Homo sapiens: one gene and its partner. The protein of the gene in region 1 purifies or fractionates together with the protein of each later gene. This does not show direct contact. Each region holds a gene or a part of one and is shown in the gene's direction. Other genes may lie near its edges. The genes, in order: IGFN1 and KLHL25.

Region 1 (11,094 bases):
CTCTCTCAGACATGTTTTTTTTGGTGTGCGTGGTGTTTGAAATTTTAAAAATTGTCAACCTGTAGTAATTAAAAGGTAGATATCTCTTGAGGAAGCAGGTCTAGTCTCGCCATTGGTTATGCTTACAATTGATCTGCCTGCAACTAACAGAAAATCCTACTAAGAGCAGCCTAAGAAATAACGATATTTCATTCCTTCACATAAGAAGTTTTGCGAGTGGCGTCCAGGGCTCATACCACAGCTCAGGGCTGCCATCGGAGAGCTGATTCCTTCGTTCCCACTGCTCTGCCATCCTTAGCAGATTGGCTTATCACCTCATGGCCATAAGAGGGCTGTGGCAGATTCAAACATAATCCATGTTCAAGGTAGGAAGGTGGAAGAGGTGGCCCAGGTCCATCTGCCTCTCTTATTTTTATTTTTATATTTTTGAGATGGACTGGAGTCTTGCTCCATCGCGTAGGCTGGAGTACAGTGGCACAATCTCACCTCACTGCAACATCTGCCTCCCGGGTTCAAGCAATTCTCCTGCCTCAGCCTCCTGAGTAGCTGGGATTACACGCGTTTACCACCATGCCTGGCTAATTTTTGTATTTTTAGTTGAGACAGGGTTTCACCACGTTGGCCAGGCTGGTCTCGAACTCCTGACCTCAGGTGATCCACCTGCCTCGGCCTCCCAAAGTGCTGGGATTACAGGCATGAGCCACTGTGCTTGGCCTTTTATTTTCTATTTTTTGAGACCTGTTGCCCAGGCTGGAGTGCAGTGGTGTGATTATGGCTCACTGCAGCCTTGACCTCCCAGGCCCAAGTGATCCTCCCACCTCAGCCTCCCAAGTAGCTGGGACTACATGCATGTGTCATCACACCCAGCTAATTTTTTTATTTTTTTTGTAGAGGCGGGGTCTCCCTGTGTTGCCCAGGCTGGTCTGGAACTCCTGGGCTCAAGCTATCCTCCCCCCTCGGCCTCCCAAAATGCTGGGATTACAGGCATGAACCATCACGACCAGTCCATCCACCCTTTTTATAGAGGAAGCAAAGGCTTTCTCAGAAATTCCTGGAGCTCATTGGTCAGGACAGTGTCACATGAGCACTGCTAGTTGCAAGGGAAGCTGGGGAAGGTGAGTGTTTAGCTTTTTCAGCCTCTCTAGTGGAAGCAGATGATGAAGAATACAAATGGCTGCAGGATTAGCCAAACAGCAATGTCTGACCTATTTGGCAATATTGGGCCTATACCCTGAAATGGCAGCTCCCAGGTGGAGTGAAAGAGCAGCTGCCCCTTTAGATACTCTTGAGTTTGTTGTGGTTGCCAGTGTCTGCTTCACGCATTTATGCCACCTCCCTGGCCCCTGCGGACACATGACTGGGCCTCCCCTGCATGAGATGATGCTTAGGTTGGTCCCCTTGGTCATGGTAAGGCTCTAGGGTAAAAAGGCTTATGATGGACAGACCCTCCACCCTGCTCCATCCCTCTTGCTGGGATCGTCCACGCCTTAGAGGACAGTGGGGAGAGCAGGGCTCTGGGACTCCATCAGTTTCTCAGGAAGACCATCAACATGTCTTGCTTCTCTCCCTGCTTGTCCACATCGACTCCTTCCTCTCCTCCCTGGATGTTGCAGTTGGCTTTCGGAAGAATCGGAAGAGGCACAGGGAACCGCAGGAAGGTAGGCAGATTTGTCAGAAACCTCCTTGGGGGCCTGTGGGGGATAGGCTACTCCTTTCCTGGTGTTCCCTGCCTGGTTGAGCTACCATGAACACCTTGTGGATCACCACCAGTCTTCAAGAGAGCCCCTTCCAAAGGCTCAGTTGTCAGCATGGACAACACAGAAAAGCTCTGCATCAACCCTCAGTCATCCCACCTGGGACTGAGGCCTCATTCCTGCTCCTTTTTCAGACCTCAGGAAGGAGCTGATGGACTTCCGGAAGTTGCTGAAAAAGAGGTGGGTTTGGGCCTGTCCATGAGGGATTTTGGAGGCTCCCATAGTATTCACCCCCTGCTATTTCCATAAGTAAGCTGGGCTTGAGCCCCACCTCTACCCAACACAGCAGGGAGCTAGACTGCCAGTAGCAGATGGGAGGATGGGAAGGGGACTGAACTGGATGGGAATGGGACAGAGCTCCAGCTCTGCCATTTCAAAGCTCTATATCCTTGAGTTAATCATCTCTCCTCTGATTTCCTCATTTGCAAAATGTGGTGGTCCACCAGAACAATGATGTACTTTTTTTTTTTAAGCAACAGAACAATGCAACACCCACTTTCCCCAGACATCCTACTTAGAAATCTACAATACAAGTTGTCAGGAGCATTTCTCCTGAAAGTTGTGGGGTGAGGCTGAGGCTCGCCCCACCCATCTCTGAATCCTTCTGGCCTCAACAGTGGTCAGTCCCAGAGATTCCAGGCTCTGCGTTTCCTCGAGTGCAGATAGAGCAGCTTCCCAGAACTACTTGGGACACCAGAGCCAGGTGGCCAACAGAGGAGCAGGGATTCCTCTGGCCTCTGACCTGCTAGCCTTGCTCCCCAGGGCCCCACCAGCCCCCAAGAAAAAGATGGACCTTGAGCAGATATGGCAGCTGCTGATGACAGCAGACAGGAAGGACTACGAGAAGATCTGCTTGAAGTATGGCATCGTCGACTACCGTGGCATGTTGCGCAGGCTGCAGGAGATGAAGAAGGAACAGGAGGACAAGATGGCACAGGTGCCTCACCCCATTCCCACCCCTCACTCCATGCCCACCCCACACACCTGGACCATAGGTGCCTCACACCTGGAGGTGGGCTTGGAGGCAGAACTTAGGAAACCAAGTATGATCAAGGGGCCTGTCTCCATCTAGTCCCCAGTGGGGTATCTGGCTAAGGCCCTGGGATCCCAGGTTGGTGTCCTGCCTTTGCAACCTGGTTCTGATACTTACTAAACTCTGGAGCTTTGGAAGGGTTAGGGCCTCTGTATCTTGGTGTCTTCATCTGTAAAATGGGAATTATAGTCATGCCTACCTTGTAGGGTTATTGGGAGGATAAATGAGAGAATGTAATTAAAGTACTTAGCTTAGTGCCTTGATTTTTGCTATCATTATCATTGTCACCAGATTGCGGGGGGGAGGTACCTGGTTTATTTCTTTCTTTTTTTTTTTTTTTTTAAGATGGAGTCTTGCTCTTTCGCCCAGGCTGGAGTGCTGTGGCCGGATCTTGGCTCACTGCAAGCTCCGCCTCCCAGGTTCACGCCATTCTCCTGCCTCAGCCTCCTGAGTAGCTGGGACTACAGGTGCCTGCCACCACACCCAGCTAACTTTTTGTATTTTTAGTAGAGACGGGGTTTCACCGTGTTAGCCAGGATGATCTCGATCTCCTGACCTCGTGATCCGCCTGCCTCGGCCTCCCAAAGTGCTGGGATTACAGGCGTGAGCCACCGCACCTGGCTACCTGGTTTACTTCTAAAGGCTTTCATGGAAGGGAATTTCACAGTTCCCATTAGCACTCTGATCCCAGAATCTTATCAGCTGTACAGGAATTTCTTTCCTGTGTCTAACTTAACTATAGCATAAGTCTAATTTTTCTTCTGAAAATGGAAAACAACTAGTTTTTATTATCCTGAAAATAGTATCTTATCCCCTTGAAAGATAAGCTTCCTTAAACCTAACACCTAGGGTCTCAGCCTTCTCTCCTCCAAGCTTTCTCATTGGCTTTAACACGGGACCTAGCACAGAGCTTTGCACACGGTAGGTGTTCAACTAATGTTCGTTAGAAGTACAGATAGATGGAAAAGCCCCACTGTGTTCTAGCAACTGAACACCTGGGGTCTTTTCTTGGTTGTCTTCCTGATCTGATCTCTCATCTTGGAGAATTTCCTTCCTTGAGGGGCTTACTTTCCCCCACTTGTAAAAGGGGCCAATGCATGCTCATCTGGAACGCTGTGGGCCTGGGATGGTACCAGAGCCTATGAGGGTTCAGAGTACCCCGAAGAGAGAGCTTCATGAGCTCTCCTGCTGGGTGTTTGTCTGCTTTGTAGTACATCAACACCATCTCCAGCTTAAGACACATCAGGGTCACCAAGGATGGGAATGCAAAGTTTGACTTGGAGCTGGATCTCAAGGATTCTCAGAGCAAGATTTACCTGTATAAGGTGAGGCTGGAGGGGCTATGGGTGGGGGGGATCTGGCAGGGATGCTTCAGGTCTAGTGGAGAGGGAACTATGGGTACCCTGCATTCCTCCAAGGGAACAACCAGAGCACACAAGTGGTGAGCCCCTCATCCCATGGAGTTCCTGGCTGGACCTGGACCAAACCCTGGTGTAGACCATCCATCCACAGGGACTTCTTATCTCACACTGAGCAACTGGGCTCTCCAGCTGGGCCTGTGATTCTCTGTAAATTGTGTCTAACACCAGAGCACGGGGGTGAAAAGAGGGTTCTGAGAAAGTGCACCCCTTTCCATCTGAGCTTTCTCTCCAGAGACTTCATACATCCCTACCTGGGCTCTAGGAGTAATTATCTGCCAACCAGATGGGGGCAGAGGCAGGTGGGGAGCAGTTGGTAAAATTTGGCTAGTTCTGTAGCCAAACTCATCCAGCTTCATCACTTATAAGCTGTATGACCTCAGACAAGATACTTATCTTCCCCATGCCTCGGCTTCCTCACTTGTGAACTGGGGATAATATAGGACCTGTCTCATGGTGTACTGCAGCGCTAAATGACATCATGTGTGACTTGCCCCTCCCCTCACCTCTCTGCTTATTCCTGCTTCTCTTCCCCTTGTCCCTCAGTTCCTGGCCCACTGGCCTTGTCCCTGTTCCTTTGCCCAGGTGTTCCCTCTGCTTGGCATGCTCATCCCCGATATCGACAGGGCTAATTCCTTCATGGCAGAGAGACTTCCCTTGGCCACTCCGTGTGATTCCACTATGTCCCTCCAGCCCCACCCTGGCACTCAGGAGCCCTGGACCCATATCTACCTTTTTGTTCCCTAGTTTTCTCTCTTTCTTTCCCTTTCTTTCTTTTTCTTTCTTTCTTCCTCCCTCCCTCCCTCCCTCCCTCCCTCCCTCCCTCCCTTCCTTCCTTCCTTCCTTCCTTCCTTTCTTCTCATTCTGTTGCTCAGCCTGGAGTGCAGTGGTGCAATCTCGGCTCACTGCAACCTCTCCCTCCCAGGTTCAAGTGATTCTCCTGCCTCAGCCTCCCGAGTAGCTGGGATTACAGGTGTTTGCCACCACACCCAGCTAATTTTTTGTATTTTCAGTACAGACAGGGTTTCACCATGTTGGCCAGCTGGTCTTGAACTCTTGGCCTCAAGTGATTCACCCGCCTCAGGCTCCCAAAGTGCTGGGATTACATGCATGAGCCATCACACCCGGCCAGTTCTATTTTTTTCTAACATAAATTATTTACTTATTTATGACATCTATTATTTATATTTTTCCCCCATAGGATTTTAGCTAGTGAGAGCAGGAATCTTTGTTTTATGCATTGATGTGTCCTAAGTACCTGAAACAGTGCCTGGCACACAGTGGGCCCCTAATAAGTATTAGCTATTGTTAATATTCAGCAAGTAGCAAACCTATCTAGGGCTTAGTTAAAGCAGGTATGCATATAGATTACTGGGTTTCATAGAGCCTTATGGATATCTGATGTTATTCTCTGCAAGTTCCTGTTGGTGAATAAGTTGAGCTGGGGCCTCTGGGCCATGGGTGTTGTGTCCGGCCTCCCCTGCTATCCTCGCAGGGCTGCTGGAGAGTAACTCTACTCACAGCCTGAGCTGGAATGTCAGCAACTTCAGGTGCCCCTTTGTATAACACTTGCAGACTTTTCACTCCATGGACATTCCTAGAGCATGGATTCCCATCCAGCTCACAATCCCTGTTCCCATGTTCTCCAGGCCCTGCTGTCCACCCCATCCCAGCTCCTCTATGGTTCCAGGAATCTGTTGTCTGGCGACTGGGCCCGTGGGAGAAAACTGCTGGTTATAGCCAGAATGGGACTGGGGCAGGAAGCACTGAGGACCCACTGAGGCCCGCCTCCTCTTCCTTTTCTGGCCTTAGGATGGTGAGATGATCCCCTATGGCTTCAACAACCAAACCAAGCACTGTCTGCGCCGGCTGGGGAAGCGCTATGAGTTCCAGATTCAAGACCTGAGGCCTGAGGACTCTGGCATTTACCAGGTCAAGGTGGAGGATGCTGTGGTCTTCTCCACAGAACTGGAGGCCAGTGGTGAGTGGTCTACACTGCCGAAGTTGGAGTTGGGGAGATATGTTAGAAATGGAGTCCATGTTGGTGCAACGTGTGTGTTGGGGGGTAAATGTGATGTGGCCCCAGCTGCAAAAGACAATTGGGAGAGGGACACATACCTAGATGGCCAAATTTTGATGCTTTCTGTTTTCCAAAGCCTTGGTGCGAGTTATCTCTCCTGGTGCTGAGCTGGGTTCTACTGAATTACTGTCACAGACATAGAACATATGTGTCATGCCTCTGCTTAGACCTTCTCTAGCCATCAATTATTTTCAGATCAGATCCAGACTAATTGCACAGCCTCTAGAACTCCTTTCTGTTGCATGTCCTCATCTCCCACAACACCCTAGCAAGAATCTCTGGGTTAGGCATCCTCACGCTCCATACAGACCTTTCCTTTTCTGCTTCCTGTATTCCTTCCCCATCTAGGAACTGACACTCCTCCTTCATCAAACTCTGTCCCATCCCCATGAGTACCTGTGTCCACATCACTCTCAGAGCACCTGCCAGCTCAAGGGGGTTCTTGAAAGGACAACGAGAGGCCTGGGGAAGGGAGCTTTGGACAGACATGTCGTAAGAACATGGCTGAATCAAAGTTGGGGGAGAAAAAAGGGGGTTATGTGCCCCAGCACGGGGGAGGTGCCCAGATGGGGCTTTGGAAAGCCTGAAAACAGTGCAGTTTGGGAAAAGAAGTATGGGTTTGGGAGTCAGCCAGACCTGGGTGTGAATCTTGGTTTCTCTTAACTGCGTAAGACTGGGGCAAGTTATTTAACTTTTTAAGCCTTAGTTTTCTCACCTGTAAAAAGAAATTAATAATACTTATCTTGGAGATGGTCACAAGGATGAATAAGATAAACTACCGGCTCTTAGCATAGTGGTTTCCTTCATGCATCCACCTTGTCCCTAAATATAACTTTTGGGTTTGGAAGTATAGAATCCCAGAGCTGAAAATAAGCCTCATTGCTCATAACTGTAGCCCCTCATTTTACTTGGGGGGAATTGACACCTGAGGTCCAGAGGTGACCTGTCCAAGGTAACATGGGGAGTTTGTGGCTGAGCTGGTCTAAGCCAGGATTTCTGAATGGCCAGCCTTGCTGCCTTAGGTCACACTGTGTCATACCATCAAGCTGATATCCCCATTCCTATTTCCCCGGCAGCCATCCCCCCAAGAGTGGTGGTCCCACTGGCGGAGACCCACTGTGAGGAGCAGGGTGACGCAGTCTTTGAATGTACCCTCTCCAGCCCCTGCCCTAGTGCAGCCTGGCATTTCCGGCACCGGCTACTCCACCCCAGTGACAAATATGAAGTGTATGTGTCCCCTGACGGGCTGACCCACCGGCTGGTGGTGAGGGGGGCACGTTTCTCAGACATGGGCCCCTATTCGCTGGGCACCGGGCTCTACACTTCCAGCGCCTGGCTGGTGGTTGAAGGTGAGTGCTTCAAAACTCTGTCTTTCTCTGCCTCCAGGGAAGACCTTGGGGCTGCGGAGGCATGAGGAAGGCGAGGCAGTGGGATTTCCTTTGGTCAGAGAGAATAAGGAAAGCTCCTTAGATTATTCTCCACCCACTGCAGTGCAGACCTTCATGGCCAACCCAACCCTTCTCAGCTGTGCCTGCTCTACTGGGTCTCTTGGAATTACTTTGGGGCACAGATGGCTCTAGGGTCCTAGGCAGCCTTGGGACAGTGGCCCAGGTTCAGTCTGGATGAGAAGCCCCTGCACCAGACCAGAGAGCACTCTCAAACTTCCCTGGGGATAGAAATTTGCGTTCCAGATGTTCCCAGGAAAGTGTAAATTGGACATAAGTAAGGCAGGTGGTTGAGCAAGTCGATATTTTAAAAACCATGCACCTGCTGCGGCAGTTTGATAAACAAATGACTTTTGGCTTATGCGTTTTCTCCAAAACCCTCATGAAGCCTATAGCAGGGTGGCCTGCGGGTATAGGACTAGGGAGGTGGTGATGGGATTCACCCATCCATCCCTGGAACACCCTGGCTTCCTTCCCAGGTGGTCACCTTGCTTCTCTCCTGGGGAAGTCCAGGTCAGGCAAGCAGCTGGGCTCAGGCAGGTGCTTTGGCCGGATTTAACAGGAGTTTTGGTATTTTCTCTTGTCTCTCCATGTGGGCACTGACCTTCCATATGAATAACCCCTCACTGAAGCTGGGAAGGATAAAGACCTTCAGTCCACAAGTGCTGACCACAAACTGCAGAGGCAAGGAGCCCAGGCATCAGGAGCAGAAGAGTCTGGGAGCATCGAGAGCCAGGGAGAGAAATCCAGAGAGCAGGGCCCCAGGGGGGGCTCCCTTGAAGGGGCTGGGCCGGCTTCTGGGCTCCAGCACATAGCCAGCCCAGACAGGGATGGCCTTGGCAGACATGGCTACTCCTTGATGGGGGACAAAGGGACAGCTGACTCAGCCTGGGGCCCTGGACAGGAGGGCGAGGGCTTTCCAGTAGCAGAGGGAAGCAGAGCCACTCTTCCCAGGGAAAATCAATCCCACAGAGAGGGAGGCTGGGCCAGAAGCCTTGCAGAGAGGCCCCATCTACAGGGAGAGAGCTCAGAATCAGGGTTGGGCCTCCCAGAAAAACAACAGCAAGATCGTGGCAGAGACAGCAACAGTGATGAATGCTGGAGGAAAGCAGGAGGCTGGGAGGCTGGGTCCAGTCGGCTTCAGGCTGGAGGACTGGGGAGCAGCAGGGAAGGAAAGGAGCACAGAGGGGACAGTGGAAGACAACTGGACAGGCATGCCCCAGAGCAACTGTGGGATGCTCGACTGGGACCTGGGAGAGGAAAGAGCGACCTGCAGGGATGCCAGTCTGATCCTGTAGGGTCCTGGCCAAGAGGAAAGCAGATAGAGATTTCACAGGATGACAGCCTGGCTGAGATGGACAGAGGGGATGCTCCAAGTAGGGAAAGGGGGAGAGGAATAGTAGTGTGGGGTGGTGGGACTGGCCTGGGAGAAGCTGGAGACAGCAATGGGGCAGGAGGTCCTGGCACCCTGGAGCTTACTGGAGGAAGAGGTTCTGGCTCCAAGGTGGGCATGGCCCCTGAATCCTGGGGTTCTCAGGGAGGTAGAGATGCTGACTATGGGGAAGCCAGGGGCTACTGGGGGTCAGGAGAGTTGCTAGAACAGATACCTGGAGGCAAGGACTTCCAGGAACCATCAATATCAGGTGGTAGAAAATTCCTTCTGGGAGATGGGAGTCCTGAGATCAAAGCTGAAGACTCACTGCAGGAGGCAGATGGTATATGCCGGGGGGAGTCTGTAGTTACAGGAAGTGCCTACAAAACTGGCCCTGGAGGCCCAGGAGACCCCAGAGGCTGCGAAGGTGTCCTACAGGAGCTCAGGGGAAGGGATGGCCAGGAAACAGCTTGGGCCTCGGGTGAGGTAGAGTATGACCCCAGAAGCTTCCAGTCTTCCCAGGGCTGGACAGCAGGTCACAGAGCAGCAGGGGGTATTGGCAGAATAGAATCTAAGGGCACAAGTCCTTGGGATGACACACCATCTAGCCTCAGAAAAACTGGGGCCCACCATGGGCCTGGAGTGCTGGGGCCCAGTGGAGGACAAGAGGGTATGGGTGGTATCTGGGTGGCTGGACTGACGGAGTCTGGTCAGGGGGTGGATGCCAGAAGCCACTGGCTAAGTAGGGCTCCAGGCCTGGGTGCTCAGGGATCTGGGGGGACACTAGGAGATAAGAAAGGATTAAGAGGTCCTGGGTCAATAGGGTCTGAACCAGATTTCTGGAATGGGTCAGGGAGCTCCAGAGTAAAAGGACCCAGAGGTGAGACAGGCTATAAGGATGGCTTGGAAGGTCCCGGGAGAATGGAATCTAGGTACGAGGGTGGCTTAGGATATTCTAGGGAAATAAGCTCTAAAAGCGGGGCTGGTTATAGCTATGGCTCAGGGGTTCCAGGAGAAATGGGGTCCGGCCATGGTGCTGGTTGTAGAGTTTCCCCTAGGGCACCTGCGGGAGTGGAGTCTGAGGAAGGGGGTGGGTACAGGCATGGCTCCGGAGCGCCTGGGGGAGTGTGGTCTGGAAATGAAGATTCTGGCCCTGCAGGAGGAGGGTCTGGGAGAGTTGCCAGTCTTAAAAATGGCTCAGGTGGTCCTGATGGAGCACCCATGAATGACACCAGGAATTGGGCCTCTGCATGCCAGGCAGGCATGGACCCTAGGGGAGGGCACCATTCAGATGGTGGCCTAGGGAGTCCTGGGGTGACAGGGTCTGCGGGTAGAGGTGGTCTCAAGGCCCCTGGAGTAGTGGAGACTGTTGGGATGGGATGTGTGGAAGCAGAACCAGAGAGCTCTGGAAGAATAAGGCCTTGGGGTCAGACTGGAAATTATGGGGGCTTCAGAGCCTCAGAGGCCCTGGGGGCCTTTGGAGAAGGAGGCTATGAAGATGGCTCTGGGGGTCCAGGAGCCATGGGACCAGGGTCTCTGAGGGCAGGAAGCAAAGTGGGTGAGGGGGATGGGACAAGATGCCCTGGTGCTAAGGCCTCTGGAGCTGGAGCTGGTTATAGGGATGATACCAGGCACCCTGAGTCACTCGCACCTCACAATGGGGCCGCTTCTGGGAGCCAGTGGGCTTATGGGGCTGGCAATGTGCTGGGTTATGAGGATGGATCAGAACTTCCAGGGCCTCAGGGAACTGGGGTCAGAACAGCCTATGGAGAAAGGTCAAGGGGCCTTGGGCCTAGGAGTACAGGGCCAGGGGGTGAGGCAGGCTTTAGAGATGGTTCAGGAGGCCTCCAAGGAATGGGATCAGCAGATGGGCCAGGTTGTAGGAAGGGTATTGGGAGTTCTGGGGAAATGGGGTCAGTGGATAAGGAAGGTTATAAGAAAGATTTGGGGGCTCCTGAGAATATGGGTTCGGGGAGCAAGGCAGATTATAGG
Region 2 (16,058 bases), on another chromosome or scaffold:
TAGTGAGCACCTAGATGAGGGAGTGCTGGCACATGGATTAGGGGCCCTGACACATCGTAGTGATAGAGGCAGCAAGAGGAGAGAAGGAGACACAGGTGGGCAAGGCTTCCTGGGGAGAGGATGCCTTGACTAAGATGAGAAAGGCATGTCATCGCCCAGATTCGAGGTGTAGGGCAGCCACCTTTGTCCTGTCGCTCACCCACACTTCTCCCAGAGGCCCAATTCATTGCCAGCCTCAAGATAGGCACAGGTTGAGGCCATGGAGAATGCAAGTGGGAGGTGGTAGAAGGTTTGCTCTCGTCCGTAGTGTCTGGCCGCACAGTCAGCAGTCCAGCGCATTTGTAGGAAGCTGGATGGCTTCTGGATGCAGCCTCTCTTCTCTGGGGGTCCTGGGAGAACCTACCCCCTGGTCCCAAAGACCAGCCCATTGTCTGAGCCCCTAGTCCCTCTGTACCACCAGGCAGTGTAGGCATAGCCTGGCCAGTGTGGGCAGAGCTGGCACAAGAAAACAGAGTGGCCAGACACAAATGAATTGGTTGATTGAGATGCTGGTTTTCATCTAATGTGGTAAATTTCATAATTTAATTGCCTCAGCCAGCCAAGGCTGTTGAAGCATTTTCCTCACCAGGAAACACTTAGTTGGAACAAGCTGGGGGTAGAGGAGGGAGGTGCAGGGGAGGAGGGAGGAGGGAGAACTTAAGCATCCACAGCTTTCAGTCACAGCATCCCAACAGGACTTATCAATCAGCAGCTATCCCCAGCTGATGGAAGTCAGCCCAGCCCCTACAGTAGGTTCCAACCCCTTTCCTTGACCACCTCATTGCCATACCAACCTAAAGCTGTCAAAAGCTGACACCTGTCATCTTCAAGGCATAATCATCCCATACTGCCTCCAGGTCCTTCTGGGGCTGTTAGAAACTGGGGAAGGGGTGCTGTGGGATTAGGTGGGGAAGCGAAGGGGTTTGGGGATAGGAAGGGCTCCCTGTTAAGTCCTTTTAACCCAGGAGCAGTGGAAAGAGCATGGGCTTTGGCACCAGACTGGGGTTCAAATGCTGTGGGTCTGTGATCAAGTTCCTTAACCTCATTGAGCTTTGTTAGCTTTTTTCAGGGGTATGGTGAAGGTTAACCACCATACTATGCAGAATCCCCTAGAATGGGGTCTGGCACCAAGTGGGTGTCAGTCATGCCGGGCTCCCCTTTCCCTTTTTTGTTTTTGTTCCCTGGGTGCAGAATTGAGGTTGGGTGCTTGTTGCTCTGCAGCTGACTTGCAGCCCTCCCCTGAGTCCCCAGTCACCTCACCCCCGCCCCCTACCTCTCTTGCCACTCTTTCTTACTGCTAAACCTTTCCTGCTTTCCTTCCAAGCCCTGTCCCAGCACCCTGTTGGATGATAAACGATAGATGTGTGTGGCTTATTAACCTTTTTTTCTTTTGAGAAGGAGTCTCGCTCTGTCGCCCAGGCTGGAGTGCAATGGCGCCATCTTGGTTCACTGCAACTTCTGCCTCCTGGATTCAAGTGATTCTCCCGCCTCAGCCTCCTGAGTAGCTGGGATTACAGGCACACACCACCATGCCTGGCTAATTTTTGTATTTTTGTAGAGACGGGGTTTCTCCATGTTGTCCAGGCTGGTCTTGAACTCCTGATCTCAGGTGATCCACCCGCCTCAGCCTCCTAAAGTGCTGGGATTACAGGCATGAGCCACTGTGCCTGGCATTTTTCTTTTTTTTTTTTTGAGACTGAGTCTTACCTTGTAGCCCAGGCTGGAGTGCAGTGGTGTGATCTCAGCTCACTGCAATCTCCACCTCTCAAGTCAACCAGTTGTCTGCCTCAGCTTCCCCAGTAGCTGGGATTACAGGCACCCGCCACCATGCTCGGCTTTTTGTATTTTTAGTAGAGACAGGGTTTCACCATGTTGGCCAGGCTGGTCTTGAACTCCTGACCTCGTGATCCACCTGCCTTGGCATCCCAAAGTGCTGGGATTACAGGTGTGAGCCACCGCACCTGGCCTTTTTTTTTTTTTTTTAAATGGCAGCTCTGTGGTCTCAGAAATCAATTTCATTGAGAAATTGCACCATATTTTCTGCAAATACATAAAAATCTTCCTGGTCATACTTTTCTCCCACAGTGGTCTCCTGTTCCCTGAGTTGGGTACAGAGTCTGTATGAGGCTCACCTGGGCCACTTCTTGTTTCAGCGTGACCAAGGCCCGAGGCCAACTCCGTCTCTTCACCATCCCATAGCTAGAGCCCTCAGACCTGGAACCTGTTGGCAGAAAGAGCACTTGAGTCAGAGTAGGGGAGTCGTGCTTGGCCCCAGCTTGCCTGTGTGACTACATGCAGGTTCCCTTACCCCTGTGAGCCTCAATTTGCTCTCCTGTATAATACTTCTATTAAATGTTTTGCTATAAAATTTCAAAAGTTCTTGCAAGCTCTGGTGTTCAGCAGTTTTATAAGGCTCGAGTTACTTGCTTAGCCTTTCTGGTCAGGAAGAGCTTGAACAGCCAGTAGAGTACAGAGGGGCCAATTTAGAAGTCAGGAATGGACCGGGCGAGGTGGCTCACCCCTGTAATCCCAGTGCTTTGGGAGGCCGAGGTGGGCGGATCACCTGAGGTCGGGAGTTTGAGACCAGCCTGACCAACATGGAGAAACCGCTTGTTTACTAAAAATACGAAATTAGCTGGGTGTGGTGGCTCATGCCTGTAATCCCAGCTACTTGGGAGGCTGAGGCAGGAGAATCACTTGAACTGGGAGGCGGAGGTTGCAGCGAGCCGAGATTGCACCATTGCACTCCAGCCTGGGTGACAAGAGCGAAACTCCGTCTCAACAACAACAACAAAAGAAGTCAGGAATGGGGTTCTAGTTCCAGCTCTGCCTTGGATGTGTGCTGTGGGAATTGGGCAAGTTACTTTCTCTGGGATCTAGTTTTTTCACCTGTAGAGTGAGAGGGGTGACGTAGGCAAGCTCCTAGTTTCCTGAAGACTCGATTCAGATTTTCCCAGTAACTCCAAAGGGACGGGGCTGTTCTCCTTGAGCCTCTGGCAGTTCCCTGTCCCTGCCCACTGCCTCAGAGTTTGAGGCCTCCTGCGAAGGGGCTGGTGGAGACAGAAGACTGCATCAGGGGAGCACCAGGCTGGGCTTAGGGGAGCAGGCGTGGGCTCAAGGGAAGGTGGTGTGTGGGTTACTCATTTCTCAGGGCCATCGCTCTGACTGGTCGTGGGCAGGGAGCTGGGCAGCAGTTCGTGGGAGCACCAGGATGACCCCCTCTGGAATGACTAGGGTGAGACTTCCCTGGTGGGATGTCCCTTGGGCACAGAGCCAGGGCCACCTCCCAGCAGAGAGTTGGACAACGAGCTTTGAGGAGCAAGGGAGATCTTCAGCAGATTAGCTGGACATGGTGGCAGGCGCCTATAATTCCAGCTACTTGGGAGGCTGAGACAGGAGAATCGCTTGAACCCCGGAGGCAGAAGTTGCAGTAAGCCGAGATCGCGCCATGGCACTGCAGCCTGGGCAACAGAGTAAAATTCTGTCAAAAAAAAAAAAAGGGATCTCAAGGGAGCCCAGCAGGGCAGGAGGAGGCGACTGAGCACCAGCCTGCAAGACCAGTTGGATGGCTCCTCCCACGGGGAAGCAGGGCTGAGCAGGCCATGGGAGCGCTGTGCCTGCTGCCACCAGCTCAAGGGCCACATTCACCTTAGGTGTCACTCCCCACCCATCTCTGCCAGGAGGAGCCTTCCACCATCAGCCGAGTGGTGAGGAGTAGGATGCAGGGAAAGGATGGAGACAAAAAAGCCTTGCTTACATTTTTTGCCTGTTCCCATTGGGCCCCCAAGGAGAGGCTGACCACAGATCCATCTAGGCTGAGCAGAATTAATTTCCTAATTAAGATAAGGAGAAGCTGTGCTCATTCAAACTCCAGGACAAGCTGCCAGCCAGGTTTGCTGTTGGCCAGGCCAATTTGTCTGAGAGGAGTGAGGGCCAAGAGATGGAGGAGCTCTTTTTCTAGAAAACCATGGCGATTCCATCCATTGTCCGGAGTTCATGTTCTGCACCCTAGCCAGCTGGGCTTGTGAGACCTTGGCAGCAAGTCCCTTAACCTGTGAACGCTTTTGTTGTTCACAGGCTTGGAAATCTGAGGGAGAAAGGTACCCAGCTTTGTTCATGCAACAAACATTTATTTAGTTTTCTGAATGGCTCGCCGTGGACTAGAAGCTGAGGAAAGAAAGTCAGGTTCAAAGAGCTCCTGCTTGGGAGCTCAGCGTCTGATGTGGGAGGCAGACAGGCGGGTATGGCACAGCGCTAGGGTCTCAATAGTGGGCATGTTGAGAATCTGCCTCAGTTTCCTCATTGATGAGGTGAGGAAGTGGACTGTTGGTTTCCTCATTTCAAATGTGTCCAGGGAATTTTTTTCCCCCATCTGTTCTCTGCCGGGCTCTGGGATTCAGTGGAGAACAAGGCAAGGTCCTCCCCGACCCTCTCCTGATCCCACATTCAGCTGAGGGAGGCAGACAACAGACTGACAAAAATATGCAGCTGCAGAGGAAGTGGACAGGGAGGTGTGGGAAGATGGTCAAGTGAGGATGCCCTCCGAAGAGGGGTCAAGGAAGGCCTCTCTGGGGTGGTGACATTTGAGCCAGCCGTGGGAGGATCAGAGAAAGGCCTGCCAGGTGGGTAGCACAGCTCGTGCAAAGGCTGGGCCTGCGTGGGCTGCGGACAGAGACATCATGAGGCACAGAGAGGTGCCAGACCCTGACATTCTGCAGTCTTCTGGTGCAGGGAGAGACTGAGGATAACATTGTTCTCTTTCATTTTATTGTTTTTCTCTGATTTAAATAATATATCAATGGATTTCCTTTTTTTTTTTTTTTTTTTTTTGAGATCTAGTTTCCCTCTCATTGCCCAGGCCGCAGTGCGGTGGCGCGATCTCAGCTCACCTCCGCTTCCCGGGTTCAAGCAATTCTCCTGCCTCAGCCTCCCAAGTAGCTGGGATTACAGGCGCAAGCCACCACGCCCAGCTAGGATTTCCTTTATAAATGAAAAATATAGGAAAAGATGGAGCACAGTGTGAGGGTCCATCCCCTCCTTTGTATCTGTCCACAGATGGGTGCATACCCTTCTAGTCCTCCGTTGTATGTGCAGATTTTGTGTTTACATAATTTGAATCATACTCAATACTCTACAACTTATACCACTTAGTGTGTGGTGGAGCTCTTTTTCACAGCGTCGTCATATTCCACACTGCAGCCAAACCATCATTTCCTCTCATTGTGTCCTAAGGAGAGACTTTAGGTAATGCCTCATTTTCCCTGTATGATCAATGAAATCTTGTGTGTCCTTCATCATGCATCTTTCTGAGCAAGTGTGATTATTTTAAATTTTCATTGTCAAAGCCAAATGCCCTTTGCAAAGATTTACCCAGTTTACTCTTTCACTAATAATAGTGCCTGAATGCCCATTTCTCTACAGACTCACCTAATTTTTTTTTGAGACTGAGTTTCGCTCTTGTCACCCAGGCTGGAGTGCAATGGCATGATCTCAGGTTACAGCAACCTCTGCCTCCCAGGTTCAAGCGATTCTCCTGCCTCAGCCTCCCAAGTAGCTGGGATTACAGGCAAGCGCCACCACGCCCAGCTAATTTTGTATTTTTAGTAGAGACTGGGTTTCTCCATGTTGGCCAGGCTGGTCTCAAACTCCTGACCTCAGGTGATCCACCTGCCTCGGCCTCCCAAAGTTCTGGGATTACAGGCGTGAGCCACTGCGCCCAGCCCCCAAATTTTTGATGTTATCCACATTTTTAGTTTTAGCTAATGTGATGGGGTGGGGGGGCGGGTGGAATCTCATTGTTCCATTAAAAAAAATGTTTATTCAGGCTTTGTCCTTTGATTCTAGTCCACTTTTGTCTTTCCAGAAGATCAAAGTTTATTGAGTGCTGGTTCTGCCTCTTATTGGTCTCCTGACCTCAGCTGGGTACTCATCTGTGAAATGAAGCCCTTTAATCCCTGCCCGCCCCTGCCCCCCACTAGGCTGCTGTATTTTTTGCATGGGAAAACATTCCTGAAAGTTCATTTTATGCTGAAAAGCTCTGCAAACATGAAGAGGCATGGTTTTTACTAGCGAAATGGAAATATCTGGAACATTTGAGTGAATTCAGGTGTTTCTAAACAGCCAGCATATCCAGGGGAGGAGCTGGGGTGACTTTGCCCTTGTGCAGTGGAGCTGGCCTTAGGTGGGAGGTGTCTGCCTATTGTCCCAGAGATGCACGGGGCCTTACCTGGCTGAGAGCCATCTGGCTGGGCTTGAGAGCTCTTCTCAGAGGGCTGGCTTAGTCAATGATCTGTCACCTGTCTGCAGGAATAAAGAAATGAGCCAGGAGGACAGAGAGAGTTCCGTAGCTGGTCCAGAGAAAGGCCCAGAAAGGGGCAGTGGCCACCACAGACTAAACCCTGTTTACTTGCCTGTGTGGTCCCAGGAGGCATCGGGCCCCATGATAGAGGAGCCAGGGAACTGCTGACCATGGCCTGGGCCCCAGAGGAATTCATTACTGCTGGGTACCTGGGGACGTTTTGGCCAGGCTCTCCCCACCCTTCAGGAAGCAACATCCAGGTTTGGCCATGACTCCCCTGCTGCCCTGGAGATGACTCAGAACCAAGCTTCAGAGGAGGCTCCTGTGATCCCAGCCAGCCTGACCTACTTGGAACAATCTCAGGGACAGATGTAGGTAGGGGGAAGGGAGAGGGTAACCAAGGGGACAATGGGACCCTCAAAGGGCTTTGGTAGGGAGGGCTTCTGCCTTTATACCTCTGCAGCTAGTGAGCAGGAGAAGGGAAAGGGGAGGGGCCTCGCTGAAAGCAGTTTTTGCGTTTATTAGACACCTCCTGATTCTGAGAGTTGGGTGTTTCATTAAGAGAGTAAGGGAAGCATCTCACTCTAGAGCTGGTTTTGCATGGGTCCTCCTGGGGCGGGGGGGTGGGTCGGCTGCCTTTGCTGGGCTCCTGTCCCACTGCCATTGTGAGCGCAGCTTGAAGGCATTTCGCTGAGTTGGAGTGAGGTCGAATCACCAGGTTTCTTTTCAGGCATCAACTGGTATATCTGTGTTGCAGGAAGTTGCAGTTGCTATTTTTACCACTCCAACCAGGACTTTTTACTGGGAGGTACAATTACAAGCAAAATGCCAGGGTTTGGCTGGTTAGCTAAGCCGTGGGAGGCTGCTGCGGGCTGAGGCAGGGGCCACTGCACATGGTCCTTTGCTGTGTTGTACAAAGCAAGACACGTTTGCATGTGGACACACACCTACCCTGGTTGCTGGGTGGCTTTGTCTGAACCACTTCCTGTGCCTGGAGTTTCCTCTAGGTGGAAAAAAAAAAAAAGGACTTTGCTGGGTTTTGCTCAGATAATTGTACCTGGCTGCCAGGGCAGCTCCAAAGCTGTAAGCAATGTAGTTCTGACTGCCCAGAAGGTTGAAACTTTGTTAAATGAAATTGAGAACCTGCTCTATACTACCCACTCTGCTAAGGACCAGGATATAGGAATACATCAGTTGGCCGGGCGTGGTGGCTCATGCCTGTAATCCCAGCACTTTGGGAGGCTGAGGCAGGCAGATCACGAGGTCAGGAGATCGAGACCATCCTGGCTAACATTGTGAAACCTCGTCTCTACTAAAAATACAAAACATTAGCCGGACGTCGTGGTGGGCGCCTGTAGTTCCAGCTACTCAGGAGGCTGAGGCAGGAGAATGGTGTGAACCCGGGAGGCGGAGCTGGCAGTGAGCCGAGATCACACCACTGCACTCCAACCTGGGTGACAGAGAGAGACACTGTCTCAGAAAAAAAAAAAAAAAGAAAAAAGAAATACATCAGTCTCTGCTCTCTAGCATCACATGTCCAGGAATTGAAAATGCAGAAAGCGTGAGTTGTCTTCTGCTCCTTTTGGATAATTACCTGGTGTGTTTTTAATGTCTATACATTATGACTAGAGGCCAGGTGGGGCTTATATTGGTTTCTGTTACAGCATAACACATCATCACAGGCTTAGTGGCTTAATCAGTTCCTATTGATTAATGCACAGTTCTGTAGGCTGGAAGTCTGGGCTGGCCTGACTGGGTTCTCTACTTAGGGTCTCACAAGTCCAAAATCAAGGTGCAGCTGTACTGGGCTCTTGAGGCTCTGGTGAAGAATCTGCTTCCAGGCTCAGGTTTTTGGCAGAATCGAGTTCCTTATGGTCGTAGGACTGAGGTCAGTCCCCATTTCCTTGCTGGCTGCAGCCGGGTTCTAGTCTCAATGCCCTCCATCTTCAAACCTGCAGTGATGTGTCACATCCTTTCTTGCTTTGAATCTCCGACTCTTTTACTTTTGGGACCAGCTGGAGAAAACTCTGCTTTTTTTTTTATTTTTTTATTTTTTTTGAGATGGAGTTTCGCTGTTGTTGCCTGGGCTGAGTGCAGTAGAGCAACGTCAGCTCACTGCAACCTCTGCCTCCCAGGTTCAAGCAATTCTTCTGCCTCAGCCTCCTGAGTAGCTGGGATTACAGGTGTGTGCCACCAAGCCTGGCTAATTTTTTATATTTTTAGTAGATACCGGGGTTTCATCATGTTGGCCAGGCTGGTCTCGAACTCCTGACCTCCGGTGATCCGCCTGCCTTGGCCTCCCAAAGTGCAGGGATTACAGGCATGAGCCACCGTGCCCAGCCAACTCTGCTTTTAAGGGGCTTATTGACTAGATCAGGCTCACCCAGATAATCTCCCTTCTTTAAGGTCAACCAATTGATCAGTAACACCATTAATTACCTATGTAGCACACATTAATTAGATTTGAAAATCTCTGTCATGATCACAGGAATCAGGTCGACATCCATGGACCTGCATCAATAACAATATGATTAATAACAGCAGCTGTCATGAATCAAGCAAAATTTGTGTCCCACCATGCTACACTCTTTACGTGTATTCTCTCTTAATTCTGAGGATGGTACCTCGAGGTCAGGACAGTTATTGTCACCCCTGTTTTTCAGATGAGAAAACTGAGTCTCAGAGAATTTCAGTATCTTGGACCAGTTTTACAGGTAGCAATGGCAGTGCTGGGATTTGAAACCAGGGACTCTTAGCATCTAACCTTCCTGGTAGGCTGCCCAAGGTCGGTATCTGCAATTCGCTTTGTATGATTTATGGAACACCATCCAGAAAAGAGTTAAGGTTTGCTTTTTCCCATCTAGCATTTAAAATTCTTTTTTTTTTTTTTTTTTATTGAGGTGGAGTCTTGCTCTGTCACCCAGGCTGGAGTGCAGTGGTGCGATCTCAGCTCACTGCAAGCTGCACCTCCTGGGTTCAAGCGATAGTCCTGTCTCAGCCTCCTGAGTAGCTGGGATTACAGATGCCTGCCACCAAGCCTGTCTAATTTTTCTATTTTTAGTAGAGAGGGGGTTTCACCATGTTGACCAGGCTAGTCTTGAATTCCTGACCTCAGGTGATCCGCCCACCTCAGCCTCCCAAAGTGCTGTGATTATAGGCATGAACCATCACTCCTGGCCTAAGATGTTTAAATATGGCTGGGCACAGTGGCTCATGCCTGTAATCCCAGCACTTTGGGAGGCCAAGGCAGGTGGATCACCTGAGGTCAGGAGTTCGAGACCAGCCTGGCCAACATGGCAAAACCTCATCTCTACCAAAAAAAAAAATACAAAAATTAGCCAGCCGTGGTAATCCCAGCTACTTGGGAGGCTGAAGCAGGAGAATAGCTTGAACCCAGGAGCTGGAGGATTGCAGTGAGCCGAGGTCGCATTGCTGCACTCCAGCTTGGGCGATAGAGTGAGACTATGTCTCAAAATAAATAATAAATAAAATGTTTAAATATGGTATATGTTGATTATATTGCATATAATACGGCAGGTACCAGGCAGGCACCAGGGAACTCTCAGGTGGGTCTAACAGATCTCTGGATCATTTTGATTCTTTCTCCCGTGGGTATTGTGGCTAATCCCCATTTCATTCAGCAGTATTTATTAAGCATCTAATCGATTCTAGGTAGCAAAGATGACACAGAACAATGTCCTTGAGCTGCCAGTACAGAGAAGGGCACAATACGCAGTGACCTGAGGAGTGAACAGTGCTGTCCAGCAGTAGAAGAAAGGCTACCGTGCTGCAGCAAAGGCACAGAGGGCAGAAGAACGTTCATTCTAGGAGACAAGACAAAATTATGTTATTTACTGCATGCCATATGCCCTGTGTGTCGCATGGGGCACCACATTGTAGGTGCTCAGATTTCAGTGTACTTACTGCATTCATTTTCTGAGCATGTACTGTGGACAAGGCCATCCACATACCCGACAAATGTAAAATCCAGAGTGGGGTGTAGCTATGAAAGGAGAGATTGGGGAGGTGAGGGTGTGGGGCTGAGCAGGGAGAATGAGAGGAAGGGAGGGGGAGAGCTAAAGCCGAGAGAGGGAGGAAGAGGGGCTGGGGGTGGGACAAAGCTGGAAAGGGAACCGATTGAACACAGCTTGGATGTGAAAGCCTCCTTGAAGGCTTTTGAGCAGGAGCGCTCACAATTTGGCACTGGGTTGGTAGGTGTGGGAAGAAAGGGTTCAGGGGCCTGACCATAACCTGGCCTGCAGTGGTGACGCAAGACTGGGAAGGAAAACCCCAATGCAAGGTCCCAGGAAGGATGATGCAGTGGAACTTGGTGGCTAAACCATATGCTAAAAATGTGTATATGAATGACTGGCTATTTATGGGCACCCATGTTTTTGCTATAAATAAACGTACATATGTAATTTCAAGAGACCGAGAATTATCAACTGCAAAGCCCAAGTGTAGCAGTCTACTCACGGCCCCTGTACTTTGCTACTGGAGGGCCTGTCCTCTGCAAACCCAAGGTCTTTTTTTTTTTGGAGAAGGATGAGGTGGTCCTGTGGGTGAGAGAAGGCTTTTGATAATGAAGGGAGGAGCAGGCAGGGCCAGGTCATTAGAGGGAGGCAGCCAGCAGTGGGTGAGAGGGTACTGGGTCCAGCTGCCTCCGGTGACAGCAGGCTCTAGTGCATCACAGTACAAACGGGATGGAGACCCCCTGCATAGGCCCCCATGCTTCCTACAGAATTTTCTTTTTCTTAGTTCTTAAAAAAAACAGTGGTTAGTGTGGAAGATAAGAAAAATCTTCTGGCCAGGCGCGGTGGCTCACATCTGTAATCCCAACACTTTGGGAGGCCGAGGCAGGTGGATTACTGGAGATTAGGAGTTCAGGACCAGCCTGGCCAACATGGTGAAACCCCGTCTCTACTAAAAATAGAAAAAATTAGCCGGCATGGTGGCATGTACCTATAATCCCAGCTACTTGGGAGGCTGAGGCAGGAGAATTGCTTGAACCCAGGAGGTGGAGGTTGCAGTGAGCCGACATCACACCATTGCTGCACTCCAGCCTGGGCAAAAAGAACGAAACTTTGTCTCAAAAAACAAAAAAAGAAAAATCCGCTACCGCAATGTTCTCAAAGTGTGGTCTGGGTGTCCCTGAGATTCTCTTGGTGGAGAGTCCACAAGGTCAAAACTATTTTTGTGGTAATACTAAAACATTATTTGCCCTTTTCACTCATTCTCTCCAGAGTGCATAACTCAGTGAACCGATGTTTTCCAAATGGCCGATGCCTGATGTTACAGAATCACACATGGGTAAACAATCCATTCAAAGTGCAGGACAGGCTGTCAGATGGGAATGCCACTGAGTACAAAAGTTCATTGATACGGGCTGGGATACGGGCTCCTGAGTAGCTGGGATTACAGGTGCCCGCCACCACCATGTTGGCCAGGCTGGTCTGGAACTCCTGACCTCAGGTGATCCACCTACCTTGGCCTCCCAAAGTAGTACTAGGATTACAAGCATGAGCCACTGCGCCCGGCCCCTTTGGTTTTTTTTAGATAGCTGTGTGGAACTCCACTCTGTGCGTGTACCCAGGTTTATCTCACCAGGCCTCTTATTCGTGAACATTGTAGTTGTTCGCAGCCCCTCCTTTTGTAACCATGCTGCGGTGTGTAACCATTTTGTAACCATGTGCAGGCATGATGGAAGGGAAATTTTTAGGAGTGGAAATGCTGGGGCAGAGGGCACATGCATTTGTCATTTTGTAAGATGTTTCCCAATTGTTGTCTGAAGAGATTGTGCCAACTATGCTCCCCTTGCTCTCATCTCTGTCAGCGGGTAAAGAAAGAGTTGTGTCTTGGGCTTTGGGAATTGAGAGGCATTCTCATTCTGATTCAGCATCAGCGTTGACAGCCTAGAGAAGAACAGAGCTTCTGGAGAACAGGGAGAAAGAAATTCACTACCAGTAAGTGGCCAGTGCTTGGCATTTGTTCTTTTTTTGTTCTGTTCTGCATGTTTGTGTTCCTCCAAGACTGTCACTCCTGGTGGTTCATTGAAAGTGATATCTAGGCCAGAGTGCTTTTAATGGCTCCATCTGTGGGACCAGACAGGAAGAGAGACAGCCTCCCTCCAGGTCCTCAGACTGCATCTGTTTGCAAAGGGCCAGGCCAGTCCTGCCATAGAGGGGGAATCCTCCTCAGGAGGCCACGTTTGCTTTGGAGGGAGCCAATCTCGCTGCCCCTCTTTGTTTCTGTCTCTGGCTTGCTCTGGATAAGTGGAAGGAAACGAGTTACTTCACCAGATGGGTGAACCTGAGTGCTGAGTTCTTTGTCCCCTCTGTGGTGACAGCAGTGGAGTCCACTTTATTGGCATTACTCCCGTCTGGTGCAGCAGCTGGGCTTGCAGATGACTCCCAGCTCTGGGGTCCAGAGAAAGCCTGGGCAGCACCCCCAACCTGAGGGGGTTGGCATGTGGCAGGTAGAAGCCAGGCGGCACCTTCCATCTGCCTTGACAGTTTAGAGGGGCTGCCACCCCTCCTTGAGCTGAAAGAAGCCTCTTCGTTGCAGGGTGGTTTAAGTGTGGCTTGCGGGTGGCCTACCTGGTAAATAGAACTTTTAGGACGGTATGACATAAAAACATTTTTTCTCAAAAGGATTTATCTCAAGAGAATACAGTGAACCAACAGAAGCAAAAGGCATTAGTTTTTCCTTGCATAAAAATTCAGAAAATTATGGGTGAATGGATTTGTAAACCATAGTGATGTGTTTCCACAGACATTACAATTTACAGTTGACAACCACAAAGACACTAGACTAAGGTTCCTGAGGGCTCCAGAAGGCTGGGTCCCCAGTGCCTGCACTTGGCAGGCCTTTAATCAGTCTTTGTTCAGTAGTGAGGGCAGAATAGGAAAATGGCAACTCTGTGAAAAGTTGAGGTAAAACCAGTGTAAAATAGTATTCTGTAACTGCAATAATTTAAAAGTGTTTGTTTTGGGATAAAAGCTGAAAATAATAAGCCATAGTGAAAATAGTAGTTGTGTTTGCAGTGTTTCTCAATCTTGTTGGCACCTCCCTACCCCTAAGCCATTTTAGATGTTTTTTCCTAATTGCACCCACCCTCCTCATTGCATTTTAATACCACATGTGTATCTATGCCTTATACATACGATGAAGAAGAGTTTTTCATTCCCCAAGAACTAAGCTGTGTGTCCCCATCCACTGCCTCCTCCCTGCTCACTTTGGTCAGGCAGTGTGGTTCTAGGGCATTAGTGTCTTTTCTGTCTTGCTCCTCACTGTTAATGTCAGTAAAAGACAACACAGTGGAGCTCCTGGGTGTGGCTTTTGGCCTCTCTCACTTGGTCTGTAGAGCTCCCACTCAAAAAGACAGGACGCTGGGCAGAAAGGCAGGTGCTGCCCATCCATGGCTGCATCTATCTGCACCTGCCCCGGGCTGGATGTGTGGCCTGAACAGTTCCTCCCATGGGAGGGTTCGGCTGGCTTCTCTTCTTAGCAAGATGGCTTCTCTTTAAAAAAAAAAAAAAAAAAATTGTTGGTGAGGAGCTGGCCAAATCCATACGTTGCCTTTGAGTAGCTGGGCAAGTCCTGGATAGGTCCTTTCTCTAAGGTGAACTTTCTCAGTCCTGATTCCCTATCTGATCACAGAGGCTGCTCCCTACTAGGACCAGTGACCCATAGGAGAGAAGTGGGTACCATGGGGCCTGGGAGCTTAATCCTCTTCGGGATCCCTCTGTCCTGGTTGCACAGAAGCTGGTGGAGAAGGACTGCTTAAGGGGTAGACGGAGAGGACAGTGTCCTGGTGCTGGGACCTGCTGGTGGACACAGGGCTGAGGCCCCACAGACCTCTCTTCTGTCCCCTTTGGTGCTCAGCAAAGAGAGGGATGGCCTGGATTTGAACGCCGCCCCTTCCCCAGTCTTGGGTCAGTGAGCTCACATAGTGTAGTTGTGGGAACAGACTCAGCAAGACAGAGCCCTGGGCTCTGCCCCCACTCCTTGCGTAGCTTTGGGCAAATTGCCTAACACCTCCCTGCCCAGTTTCCTAAGCTGTGAAATGCAGACGATGGTTATACCTAAGGCTGAGTAGGGATGAGGTGAGTTAACACGTGAAGTGCTGAGACGGTGCCCAGCATATGATACTAAGCAACTGTGATTAGCACTGTTGTTGCCATTATCATTAACCTGCAAGCTTCTATTTTCTTATCGGTAAATTTTTTACAGAAATAGTGTGGCATATGGCAGGATTGGACTTTCTGGCTCTCTGGTGGGTGAGTGAAGGCGTGTAGCTGGATTTGGCCAGTGAGATGTGAATAGAAGTGCTGTGTGTCTTTCCAGGCCAAGCATTTAATTGTCAGTGCTATGCTTTCCAGAGCTCTCTCTCCGCCCTTTGGCATAGTGACTGGTGACATGGTGGCAGCTCTGTCATCTGGGTTCCTAGGAGTGGGATTGATGAGAACACTCATTACCGCCTGAACCATGATGCATGTATTAATAGTATGAGCAAGAAATAAAATCTTTCTCCTGTACAGCTGCTGCGATTTGGGGGTTGTTCCTTGCTGCGGCAGAACCTCATCCGTCCTGATTAAGACAGAAAGTCATAACCATGTTGAGCTTGGTTGTGAGGATTAAATTTTGTATGTAAAATGCCTAGCACAGTATCAGGTACATGATAGTCGTGCATTTGATTTGGCTCCCTTCCTGGCCAGAATCCCCTGCTGATTTTTAGCAGCACGTGTTGCTTCATCTTTCAGCAGAGTTTCACAGGCCTTGACCCCTTACCTCCTGTTCTGTGCCTTCTTTGTGAAGAAGAGCTTCACCAAACTGGGTAGGGCCCAGCGTGGTGCACCGCCTGACCCGTTCCTCTGGAGTGGAGAAGGCGTCCCTCTCAACTTGTAATCACAGCTCCCACTCCCTGGTGACCAGAGGCTGCAGTCACCCTGGGACTCTGCGGTCAATCCTGGAAGTTAAAGTGGCTGCCCTTCAAGTGTGCTTAATGTTTGGGTGCGTTACGTGAAAAGGCTGGAGCATGTGGAGAAGGCACTGAAACATCGGCCGGCCCTCTGGGTCTGTCGGGACCTCCCTTCGCTTTCCAGGCTTTGGCTGCAGGCTGACGGGTAGGGCCATGTGTAGAGTAATCCTCTGATTCATTGTCCACAAGGGACACTGTGTCTGTGTCTGGGTGGGGAAGGAGACACAATTTGAGAGCATTGGTTGGTGGCACTGTTGATCTTGACCTCAGGAAAGCAGGTGAAGCCAGGTGGTCTCACTGTATGCACTGTCAGAGGCTGCGGAAGGGCTGTGGTTCTGTGCTATTGGGGTGAGCATTGGCTGGGAGCTATTTGATGCAGGGACCTCATGGGATTGCCTGAAGGGGAAGCCCGTTTATTACCAAGCATTGTCTGAAGCAGACATTCTCAGCCCTTCCCTGATCCTTGCTCCATTCTAGAACTGCCCCATGGGCAGCCCATTCCTGTGCAGGAGGCATGGGGGCCAAAGTGAGGCAAGGAAGCTGGGGTGAGGCTGAGGGCTGGGAGGTTTAAGTACTGCCCAGCAAACTGTCCACCTGAGACCAGAAGGTGCCATTTCACAATTCTTGTGGCTTCACTGCAAGTGTCAGATCTGTTATTTATTTATTTATTTATTTATTTTTTTTGAGATGGAGTCTTGCTGTGTCCCCCAGGCTGGAGTGCGATGGTGGCATCTCGGCTCA

The links.
Region 2: the proteins of IGFN1 (region 1) and KLHL25 purify together in Homo sapiens (co-immunoprecipitation; 2 studies listed by BioGRID and IntAct, with this or other methods). This does not show direct contact.

The regions. Positions count from the first base shown.
Region 1 is NC_000001.11:201,197,721-201,208,814, forward strand, and holds part of IGFN1 (immunoglobulin-like and fibronectin type III domain-containing protein 1), read left to right. Parts: intron 1-1,613; coding exon 1,614-1,658; intron 1,659-1,888; coding exon 1,889-1,934; intron 1,935-2,516; coding exon 2,517-2,691; intron 2,692-3,998; coding exon 3,999-4,112; intron 4,113-6,017; coding exon 6,018-6,186; intron 6,187-7,361; coding exon 7,362-7,634; intron 7,635-8,362; coding exon 8,363-11,094.
Region 2 is NC_000015.10:85,776,868-85,792,925, reverse strand, and holds part of KLHL25 (kelch-like protein 25), read left to right. Parts: exon of another isoform or gene 1-6,708; intron 6,709-12,215; exon of another isoform or gene 12,216-12,300; intron 12,301-16,058. UniProt on the Homo sapiens protein: Substrate-specific adapter of a BCR (BTB-CUL3-RBX1) E3 ubiquitin ligase complex involved in various processes, such as translation homeostasis and lipid synthesis.